Homo sapiens: one gene and its partner. The protein of the gene in region 2 purifies or fractionates together with the protein of the main gene of each other region. This does not show direct contact. Each region holds a gene or a part of one and is shown on either strand. Other genes may lie near its edges.

Region 1 (5,312 bases), on a different chromosome or scaffold from region 2:
GCTATGAGAAATAACCCAGGCACAGAAAGACAAATACCACATGATCTCACTTATACGTGGAATAAAGCCGAGCTCATAGAAGCAGAGAGAAAATGGTGGTTACCAGAGATTAGGGAGTGGGGCAAATAGGAGGATACTGGTCAAACGGTAAAGTTTTACTGAGGCAGGATGAATAAGTTCTGGAGGTCTAATGTACAGCCTGGTGTCCATAGTTAATAATAACACATTTATTAGTTAATAATATGAAATTTGCTAAGACAGTATATATCTTGTTCTCACCGCACACACAAAAAAACAATGTGAGGTGATGGATACGTTAATTACTTGATTTTAGTAATCATTTCACAATATATACATATAACCAAACGTCACACTATATACTATAACTATATACAATTTTTAGTTGCCAATTGTGTAGCTCATTAAAGCTGGAACCCACACATCCCCCCAAAAAACACTAAACAATGAAATCTGAAATCATGTTGTACACGTGCTTAAAGCCCTGTAAAGCCTTAAACCTTTGTTCTCTCCAGAATCTGGCCCTTGCCCACCTCCTCAGCACCTGTGCTCATCACATCCCGCCCCCTGCACCAGCAAAGCCAAACTTCTAGCCATTTTCTGAACAAAGTTGGCTGCTGCTTCACATCTGGGCTCGAGTCCTCTGCCTGTCTGTGTAAAAGGTCTTATCTCATCTGTCCTTTGAACATCTACTCATTGTTCAAGACTCAGGGCGGGCACGGTGGCTCACACCTGTAATCCCAGCACTTTGGGAGGCCAAGGAAGGCGAATCACGAGGTCAGGAGATCAAGAACATCCTGGCCAACATGGTGAAACCCCATCTCTACTAGAAATACAAAAATTAGCCAGGCGTGGCAGTGCGTGCCTGTAGTCCTAGCTACTTGGGAGGCTGAGGCAGGTGAATTGCTTGAACCCAGGAGGCGGAGCTGCAGTGAGCTGATATCACGCCACTGCACTTCAGCCTGGGTGACAGAGCGAGACTCCATCTCAAAACAAAAAACAAAAAAAACCTCAGCCCCAGATGGAAATGTGACAGTCTCACCTGCACTCAGCAATAAACAACTTACCAGCTACAAACTCTGTTCCTGCAAGTTCTGCAGTAGCAAGGAAGTCATCAAGGGAGCTCTGTTCAGTCACTGACTGAAGATTAAGACGACCCCAATCATAGCCATCATTGAGTTCACTTGTGTGCAACTATGAAAAAACACAGGGTGATAAATACAGCTGCTCTCTTCTGCTCTTGGCATCCAATAAGCTCTAAAATTCCTTGCAACTAGTCTATGGTCTTGAGGGTGGTTGTAGTCCCTTTAGAATCAATACTACTTATAGTTAATGTTTAAAGGAACACGTTCTTACCTCACAATAGGCAGTTCCCTTTCACCATTTCATTAATTTTCAAAATCTTTTGAGGTGAATTTTACTGTATTTCCATTTTACTGATGATGAAACTAAGGCTTCAGCAGATAAAATAACTTGCCTATAGTCAAAATCTAAATGGCACAGGTAGAACTTGAACCCAGATTGTCTGACTGTGCTAGTCAAAATTAGTCAAAACTTTATTTGATATAATCCCACAATAAGAAATACATTTTACATAGTGACCCAAAGGTGTATGTACATATAATGATACAAGCATTCAAGTACCGTTCAGTACAGTAAAATGGCAATAGAAGAATACTGAAACCACACCCTATTACATGCAACATTCTGATATTTCTCTATCTTGCTGGGGAAAAAATAAAAACAAAACAAAACAGCTAGCTGCAGACCACTAAATTGACTTCCAGACACAACCCAGAGTTTGATAACCATCACCCTAAGCTATATACTTAGTATAGATACAAATAAAAAAAAATTGCCAGGCGTGGTGGTTTGTGCCTGTAACCCCAGCTCCTCAAGAGGCTAAGGCAGGAGGATTGCTTGAGGCCAGGAGTTTGTGATCAGCTTGGGCAACACAGCAAGACCCTGTCTCTCCAAAACAAACAAACAAAACCAAACAACCAGGCCTGATGGTGTGCACCTGTAATGCCAGCTACTCAAGAGACTGAGGCAGGGGGATTATTTGTGCCCAGAAGTTTGAGACTGTAGTGAATTGGTGAGTTATGATCACACCACTGGCACTCTAGCCTGGGTGACAGAGTGTGACCCTGTCTCTAAAAATGAATAACTGAATGATGAATGAATTTCCTAAATAAATATTAAGGGCCAAAAGTTTAAGTGGGCATAGAATCAGCAAAAATAAGGAATTAGGATCCAATTCTTTACCATTCATGTTCAATCTTCCCACAGTTTCCTAAAAGGCTTCATTAGTAACAAGTTGCTTCAAAGCTAATAAAAATTACCAGTAATCTAATGTCCAGAGTAACTCTGACCTGATGAATACTGATAAGCACTCCATGCTGTTTACTCTGCAGACTATATGGATGAAAGTCAGCTGGTGTGACAGTGGCACACGCTTACTTAGCTCCAGGGACATATTTAACTAAATTTAGCACACGATCTTAGCACTCAACATGTTCTCATTCATTCCCGGGGGAATGAATGGTGAAAATAACGACTAGAATGATGAACACAAGCCAAATCACTTCATTCATTTTTTTAAAGATCCTTCTATAACCTAGTAAAATATTAGGTCTTGTCACACCTGAAAAATCAATGATTTATCTTTGAGCTAAACCACTAGGGGGTGCTTCGCAAGGATGAGGCAAGGATCTGAATTATTTTATATTTCTGGCAGTAACCAACCGCTTCTGGAGGATCCATTCTTTGAACAAATCAATACAAAAATACGTTTTGTCTTTTTCCTGCTCTGGAAGTTCCAAGCACTTCAGTGGCTTCTAGGGCAAAACCCAAACGTACTCAAGACCTGGCATTGAAGACTCTTCAGATTCTCACTCCACGCCTCATCACCACACTAACTCTTCTTTCAAGCTTCTCCTACCTTTGTGTTCTGGGCCTTGCCAGGAGGAGGGCCTGCTACTCAGCTTGGCAGAAACTCCAACTCATCCTTCAAAACCCGGCTGAGGCGTCCCTCCTGCAAAACTTATCTGACTTTTGACCCCGAATTTTGCAGCACTCAGGCTAGACAGAAAAGATAAGAAAGATGACATGGTCTGTCTTACCCAGGAGTCAGTGTGACGATGGCTTCGGCTCCGCTGAGTCTGATGGCGCATAAGGGCCCGTCCCAGCGACCCACCGGCCGGGGCTCTCCTCCGGCCCATGGCAACACGACCGCTGGACGAAGCTTCCCGGCTCGGCGCGTGCAGTTTCCGGGATTCACAGTTCGATCCCCGGAAGTGACGATAAGCGAGCCCAAGTAGTTCAGGCTCAAACTTGAGAGGGGAAAGCAGAATGACTTGTTCTCAAGTTCTCCTTTTACGTCTCGATTTTACCAGTATTATAGAATATAAGTGAAAAAATGGTTCTGGGAAATTTTCGATAGATTTCCTGGCGAATGTCTCGAGTTTGGATAAATGACTGAGTTAAAAGAATGGTCCATTCTTAATTTGTGCGTCGGTCTTTAGCGTCCGGCGAGAAACTAGAGCACGTCGGAAACATGGCGGTTCCTATTCGCGGCACTAGCTCCGCCTTCCGCTGCTTCCGTCAGGAGGACGCGGAGACTCGGAGGAAGAGTGTTTCGGTGGCGCTGGGACGGGGGCGTTTCCCAGCGCTGGTTTTCTGCTGGCGTCCCGAGGTGTGGTCTCTCCGAGGTCCAGCACAGCAACTAACTTTTTGTTTATCTAGCCGACCCCAGCTGCGAACTGGGGAGAAAAGTCTTCGCCTGGATGTGAATTTGGAATGAGAGGCTGAATAGTATTTCCAGAGCTTGGCAAGGTTGTAGGAAAAGCCAACAGGAAGTGACTTACGCTTTATTTCAAAGAAAAAAAAAATGTTTAAACAGTTCTAATTATATTTTCATTACCCTTTTTAAAAATAATTAAAATGAAAGTGAAAACAGTGAGCCAGCTCCACTCCTAGAGGCCTGGGCTTTTGTTCCTCACTTGAATGTTTGATTTCCCTATAATGGGAATAATAGAAAGTCAGCTTAGAGTGGCTGGTGAACTACATTCTCATTGATCCAGAGAACCATCTCTTTGTTTTGATGCTTGGAGAGAGGAAGCAGCTTGAGCAAGTCGTAGATTGAGTGCGTGCAGTGTCAGGAATAAACCCAAGTCTTGTCACTAGCCTGTACACCCCTGGGGAGAGTGGGGAATGAGGGTTGTTAACATGTATTATTTATTTATTTTTATCTTTTGAGACAGAGTCTCGCTGTCCCCCAGGTGGAGTGCAAAGGCATGATCTCGGCTCACTGCAACCTCTGCTTCCCGGGTTCAAGTGATTCTCCTGCCTTAGCCTCCCGAGTAGCGGGAATTACAGACACGTGCCACCGCACCCAGCTAATTTTTGTATTTTTAGTAGAGACAGGGTTTGACTATTTTGGCCAGGCTGGTCTCGAACTCCTGACCTCAGGTGATCGCCCGCCTCGGCCTCCCAAAGTGCTAGGATTACAGGTATGAGCCACTGCGCCTGGCCAAACATGTATTTTTAAATCATAGGATCGAGGTAATGCATATATTACCTAGCATAGCTTGATTTAGCCATTCCACAATGTACACATATATCAAAACATTATGCGGTACAACGTAAGTAATAAACAATTTTTAGTTGTCAATTAAAACAACAGCCAAAAAGAAATAAATAGGATCAAGAATCTGTTTAACCTAGGGCTTTTCACACTTTAATGTGCATATAAATCCCCTGGGAATCTTGTTAACATGCAGATTCTGATTCATAAGCTCTGGGGTGAGGCCTGTGGCTCTAACAAGCTTCCAGGTGATACCCATAGTACTGGTCCTTGGGTCACACTTTGAGTAGCAAGCGTAGTCCACTCTTTCCTGGTGCAAATGAAGACACAGAAGTGGACTGGCTAAAGGTCAGTCATAGCAAGTTAGCATCAGGCGAAACTGGGTCCAGACTCCCACCCATTCTGAATTCCCTGCCAGGGTTTCTGTGTGCTGCACCTTACCCCTCTTACTGAATTGAAGTGAGTTTTGGGAAATGCCCAAGGGACTGCTGGCAAGCTGTGAAGCAGTTGGCAACGCTTTGAGAAGGCAGTGCTCACAGATGAGCAAAGGAATGCATCAGAACATCATTTCTCCCATTTCTCAATTTAGAAACAGTGTATCTTTAAAATCCTACACATAATCTCCAGAAGTAAGATATGAAGAAGACCCACGAAATAGAATTAGCAGACAGCTCCCGGCATTCTCTCCAGAGCTAAGTGGTTAAAGGTC
Region 2 (5,058 bases):
ACATCCCAACTCATTTTCCCAGGCAGAGTAATGGTTCTGAAATGTCAATCCGAAGGTGTCACTTTTTGCTCAAAGACCCCATATTGGCCTTTCCATTGCTCTTAAGATAAGGAACAACTTCTTTGACATGGGATAAAATGACCCTTTGCAACTTGGCTTTCTCCAGTTTCATCTCCTACACTCCTTACCTCTACTCCTAGTCATATAGGTTGTCTTTCATTTTTTGAAAAGCTTTATTATTATTTTTTTCTTGCCCATGGCTCGTTTCTCTTCTTGGTACTTATTTCACACTCCCTTGTCCCCAAACTCCTCTCTAATTCACATCCTTCAAGCCATTCTCTATTCGTCCTCCAAAGTCAGTTTAGCTGTCAGCTCCTACTGGAATTGATGCTTGTAATTGATCCCGATCCTAATAATTTCAGGAGACCCTCCCATGTGTTTCCATTCATTTTATCTTTCTCATTATATATATATATAAGCATATATATAAGCCATATATAAGCATATATAAACATATATGAGATACAAATGTAAATAAGCATATATGATACACAAAATTGTTATTATATATATAACTTTTGTATCTCATTACATATACATGTATCTCTCTCATTACATATATAACTGTATATGTTGCTATATAGTCCCATGCAATATTTAGTGGGCTGAGGTGAAAAATAGACACATATATGTTATATATGTAATGACAGAGACATATATGTGTAATGAGATTATATATATTATATATGTAATGAGGGAGATATATGTAATGAGAGATATATATTTATTCAATGAGAAATACAAAATTATAATGTATATTCATTATGTATTATAAGTATATAATGCTATGTATCAGTATTTGATTTCACTTTATTAAAAGAGTTGATTATATCTGAACGTTTATTTATTTGTTACTGACTGTCATCCTCCATCAGAATATATGCTCTCTGAAGTTGAGCTTCTTGTTTACTTTGCTCACCACTGTATCCCCAGTGCCTAAGTAACAGTGCCCGGCTCAGAGTAGAGACTCAATAAACATTTACCAGATGAATGATAGAAACAGATTTTTTGAGGCAAAGTTTTTCATGTTGCCATATAGTCCCATGCAATATTTTGGACATACTTATACTAAAAAATTATTATCTGAAATTCAAATGTAGGCCGGGCACGGTGGCTCACGCCTGTAATCCTAGCATTTTGGAAGGATCGCTTGATCCTTCCAGCAGGTTGTCCCGGGAACGCGCAGCCCAAGGTGGACGCACAGACCCGCGTACAGAGATTTTTTATTGTCATGACTGGGGGTGGTGGCACTACTGGCATTTAGTGTGGAGAGGCCAGATATGCTGCTAAACATCTTACAATGCAAAGGGCAGCCCCTCAAAGGCAAAGAATTATCTGGTCTAAAATGTCAATAGCGTGGAGGCTGAGAAAAACTGAACTAGATGGCTATGAACTTTCAGGGTCCCTACCTAGTACACAGGCAGCGCCTAGAATTGCTAAGTTCATCTTCCGTTTGGAAAGGCAGCATGGGGTTAGTGAGAGGAAGGCGCCCGGGGCTGGTGGCTGGCTTTAAAGGCCTACGTGCAAATCTTCTTGACGCTGATAACGGGATGCGAGAGAGCCAGGTAGGTTACCTATTGCAGCAGGTCAAGTGATGATGTCGAAAAGGATGCGTGTGCCGGACACTGTGGAAGGTAAAGCGCTCCGCACAGCCCGCCTAAGTGCGCCCGGGACAGAGCCATCCCCCAGGTGCTACCAAACAAATCCTCCAGCTGCTGGTACGGGGAAGGTGTTCAGTGACACACCGGAAGCAGCCTAGTGGCTGAGGCGTCCTTCTCCCTACCAACGGGTTGCGAAGGAAGTAGTTGCTGTAGCCGCGCCCTGTGCGCCTGCGCGGAGGCGTCGGCTGCTGACGTGTAGCTGGGGCCAGACGGGACTAGCCGGGCGCGCGGCTGAGTGCTGCAGAATCGCTGGGGTGGCAGAGCCGCCAGCGAGGCTGGGGATGGGGGCGCCGCTGCTCTCTCCCGGCTGGGGAGCCGGGGCTGCCGGCCGGCGCTGGTGGATGCTGCTGGCGCCCCTGCTGCCGGCGCTGCTGCTGGTGCGGCCCGCGGGGGCCCTGGTGGAGGGGCTCTACTGCGGCACGCGGGACTGCTACGAGGTGCTGGGCGTGAGCCGCTCGGCGGGCAAGGCGGAGATCGCGCGGGCCTACCGCCAGCTGGCCCGGCGCTACCACCCTGACCGCTACCGGCCCCAGCCCGGAGACGAGGGCCCCGGGCGGACGCCGCAGAGCGCCGAGGAGGCTTTCCTGCTGGTGGCAACCGCCTACGAGACACTCAAGGTGAGGCCTGCGGGCGTGGAGGGGCTTCGAAGACTGGCCGCGGGAAGCCCACGGCGCCTTCCGACCCCGGTCCGCGGAGCGTGGGCCTCTGTGACCCCGAAACTGAGCACAGCCACCACCGCGACCTTTAAGATACTCACGTTTCCCACGTGGCCCTGTGAAAGAGCCGAGTCGGCCCCACGGGGCCTTGGGGGGCACAGCTAGCCTCCTTGCCCTCTTCCTTTTTGTGACATTGTTATGCAAAACTTTGGCCATCTTACGATTTCGTGAAAATATTTTAATAACGTGCATTTCACATTCGAAAAGCAGGGTGATCATTATTAGTAGGATCTGGGGTAGCCCACAACAGGGAAAGTCTCGAATATCAAGTGACAACTGTGATCGCATCAGTTTGATATGACAGAAAATTGGTTTCTGGAAATAGTGTTAATGGTGACGCTTAGTTTGGGTTTAAGGAACTAAGAAAACACTGAGAAGAACAATGAACACCAGTCAAAAGGCTGGATGTGAGTCTTTGCTGTGACACCCCTGTATGACCTTGGATAGTGACTTATTATGTTGAAATAGCTGTTTCTTCATATGCAAAATTAAGGCCATGATACCTCCTCTCAGAGTTATTATGGGGATTAAATGATAAGTGTGCGAACCGCCCCCCTTTCCATAGGATCCATAAATAGGTGCTTAATGACTTGGGTACAAAACTCTGAGAATTTCTAGTAGGAAATATTTTGTGAATATGTATTTGTATTTCATTTGACAGGTTTTATTGAGTCTTGTGGGGATGAGAGATTTAGCCCGATGCTGTTTTCTTCTACTACTGCAAAAAATCAAACCATCTAGGACATCACGAAGTATAAATCGTACTTGATGGTGGTATTACTGCTTGAAGGGCCCCATCATACTAATGCGTCAGCGATTGTAGTTGTAAAGTATTTCTTTTCTAGCCTTTTTTTTTTTTTCCCGAGGCAAAATTTTCTATGTTGCCAGGTAGCCTGCTTTTAATGATTGTACTTTGAGTGGATATAATTTTACCTTGGATTGTTCCTCCAGATTGTTTTTCCAGAGCTGAAAATAGTCAAGGAGCTAACAACTTTATTGATGCCTTCCAGAGCAGTTTGGATAATTTGGAGTCATAAAATGAGTGGTGGAGGGGCGGGCCCTGAACTAGGTAAACTAGGTGAATTGAACTAGGTAAAATTTAATTTACCTAGTTCATTAAATTCTCACTAGCGTTAGTGAGATTGTAATTTTTATTGGCAGTTAACTGAGGGATGGCTGGGGAACTGGGAAAGTGCTGAGGCCCCAAAGGGCTTTGTTGCCGATTATGTAAAAAGTGATGGAAAAAAGACTCCAGAAAAAATAGGAAAGAACTCTCCATCCAAGGCACTTCAGCATATGAAGCTCCAACCTCTGTTCCTTGTAGTCAGCCAGAAGCCCTGCTGGTGCGTGAGGGAGCCCTGGACCAGTGTGTGAAATCATAATGGGATTTACTAGGGATAGTAAAATTGATAGGATTAGGGATGTTAATCATGTTAATTTGTTTCAGGCGCGAGATGGTAATAAGGTTGTGGTGCTTGAATTTAGGTTGAGTGTCAGGAATGCAGTAGTTGTTAGGATGATATAGATAATTAGGTTAAAGATAGTGATATTTGGATTGTATATCAGTTATCCCATTATGATTTCACACACTGCTTTATAAACTAAGACCATGCAATAGTATTTAGTGTGTTTGACTTTTGGGGATTTAGGGAGTTTATGGACTTTGGAAGTTAAACAAGTGGACGCTTACCCTCTGTGTCAACCCATCTTCTGGAAGATGGAGAACTTCCAGAAGAGAGGGCAGCAGAAACACTGCCAGCTGTTGCCTTCTGCTGGGCTTTGTAGGAGTGGAGATGAGTAGTTTTGGCATGAGAATGGTGAGCATGTTGGTAAGAACTTTGAAAACAAGTGCCATGATTAGAGGGTAGAAATAGTGATGGTAGAGATTCCTGCTGGGAGGGCCACCAGGAGAGACTGATCAGTGCCCCCATCCCGGAACTGATCTGATGAATCTATATGGTTGCCTCTAAAGGTTTCTACCCCTAAAGTTTACCACTCATTGTCAGCTAATGAAAAGCTAGATAAAATAAGTGATCCACTCAAGATCAAGGAACGTTTAGGCAGTTAAAGACCAGTATGTCTGGAGTAGGTAACACTTGTACTCTTGACTCTGACGGGTTTGTGATAGCTACAAATATCTTGGAACAGGGGAGTGGAAGTGGAGTTGTACTGGTGGAGGAGGGAATGAGGGGAGTGTTCTGTAGCTCCCCCAGAACGCCCACTGTCTTACTGTGGAAATTATCTGTGAGACAAAAGGGATGTCTGGAGATATTTTGGACCCTGGAAAATCAGACCCAGCAGAACTCTTTGAAAACTTGCATTTTAAATTTATGGAGATGAACATATATTCATCTTCCAAGTGGAGCACCTCCAAGAACTATTTACCTCATTGAAGATGCTCTCTCTTGGAATAAGGATAAGGACTTTGACTTGCTGTCTGTGGGAGCAATTATTACAGGGTGGTCTGCTTTAACTTCTGTCATAACGGAGAATTGTGAGGAAGTTGCCAAAGAATATGTTTTCTGGGTAATGCAAGGTTTTAATGAACTGAGGTCATCCAATTTGGAGGGCTTCAGCCTTGCACATTATCCGTTGAGGCAATGGAGATGTAATGGCTGTTT

Evidence for each region.
Region 1: the proteins of DNAJC25 (region 2) and LSG1 purify together in Homo sapiens (affinity purification with mass spectrometry, with the first as the bait; one large-scale study listed by BioGRID). This does not show direct contact.

What each region holds. Positions count from the first base shown.
Region 1 is NC_000003.12:194,668,924-194,674,235, forward strand, and holds the start of LSG1 (large subunit GTPase 1 homolog), read right to left. Parts: upstream 3,269-5,312; 5' UTR 3,240-3,268; coding exon 3,141-3,239; intron 1,213-3,140; coding exon 1,086-1,212; intron 1-1,085. UniProt on the Homo sapiens protein: Functions as a GTPase. May act by mediating the release of NMD3 from the 60S ribosomal subunit after export into the cytoplasm during the 60S ribosomal subunit maturation.
Region 2 is NC_000009.12:111,629,406-111,634,463, forward strand, and holds the start of DNAJC25 (dnaJ homolog subfamily C member 25 precursor), read left to right. Parts: upstream 1-1,928; 5' UTR 1,929-2,002; coding exon 2,003-2,338; intron 2,339-5,058. Other genes in the region: DNAJC25-GNG10 protein precursor, read left to right, coding at 2,003-2,338.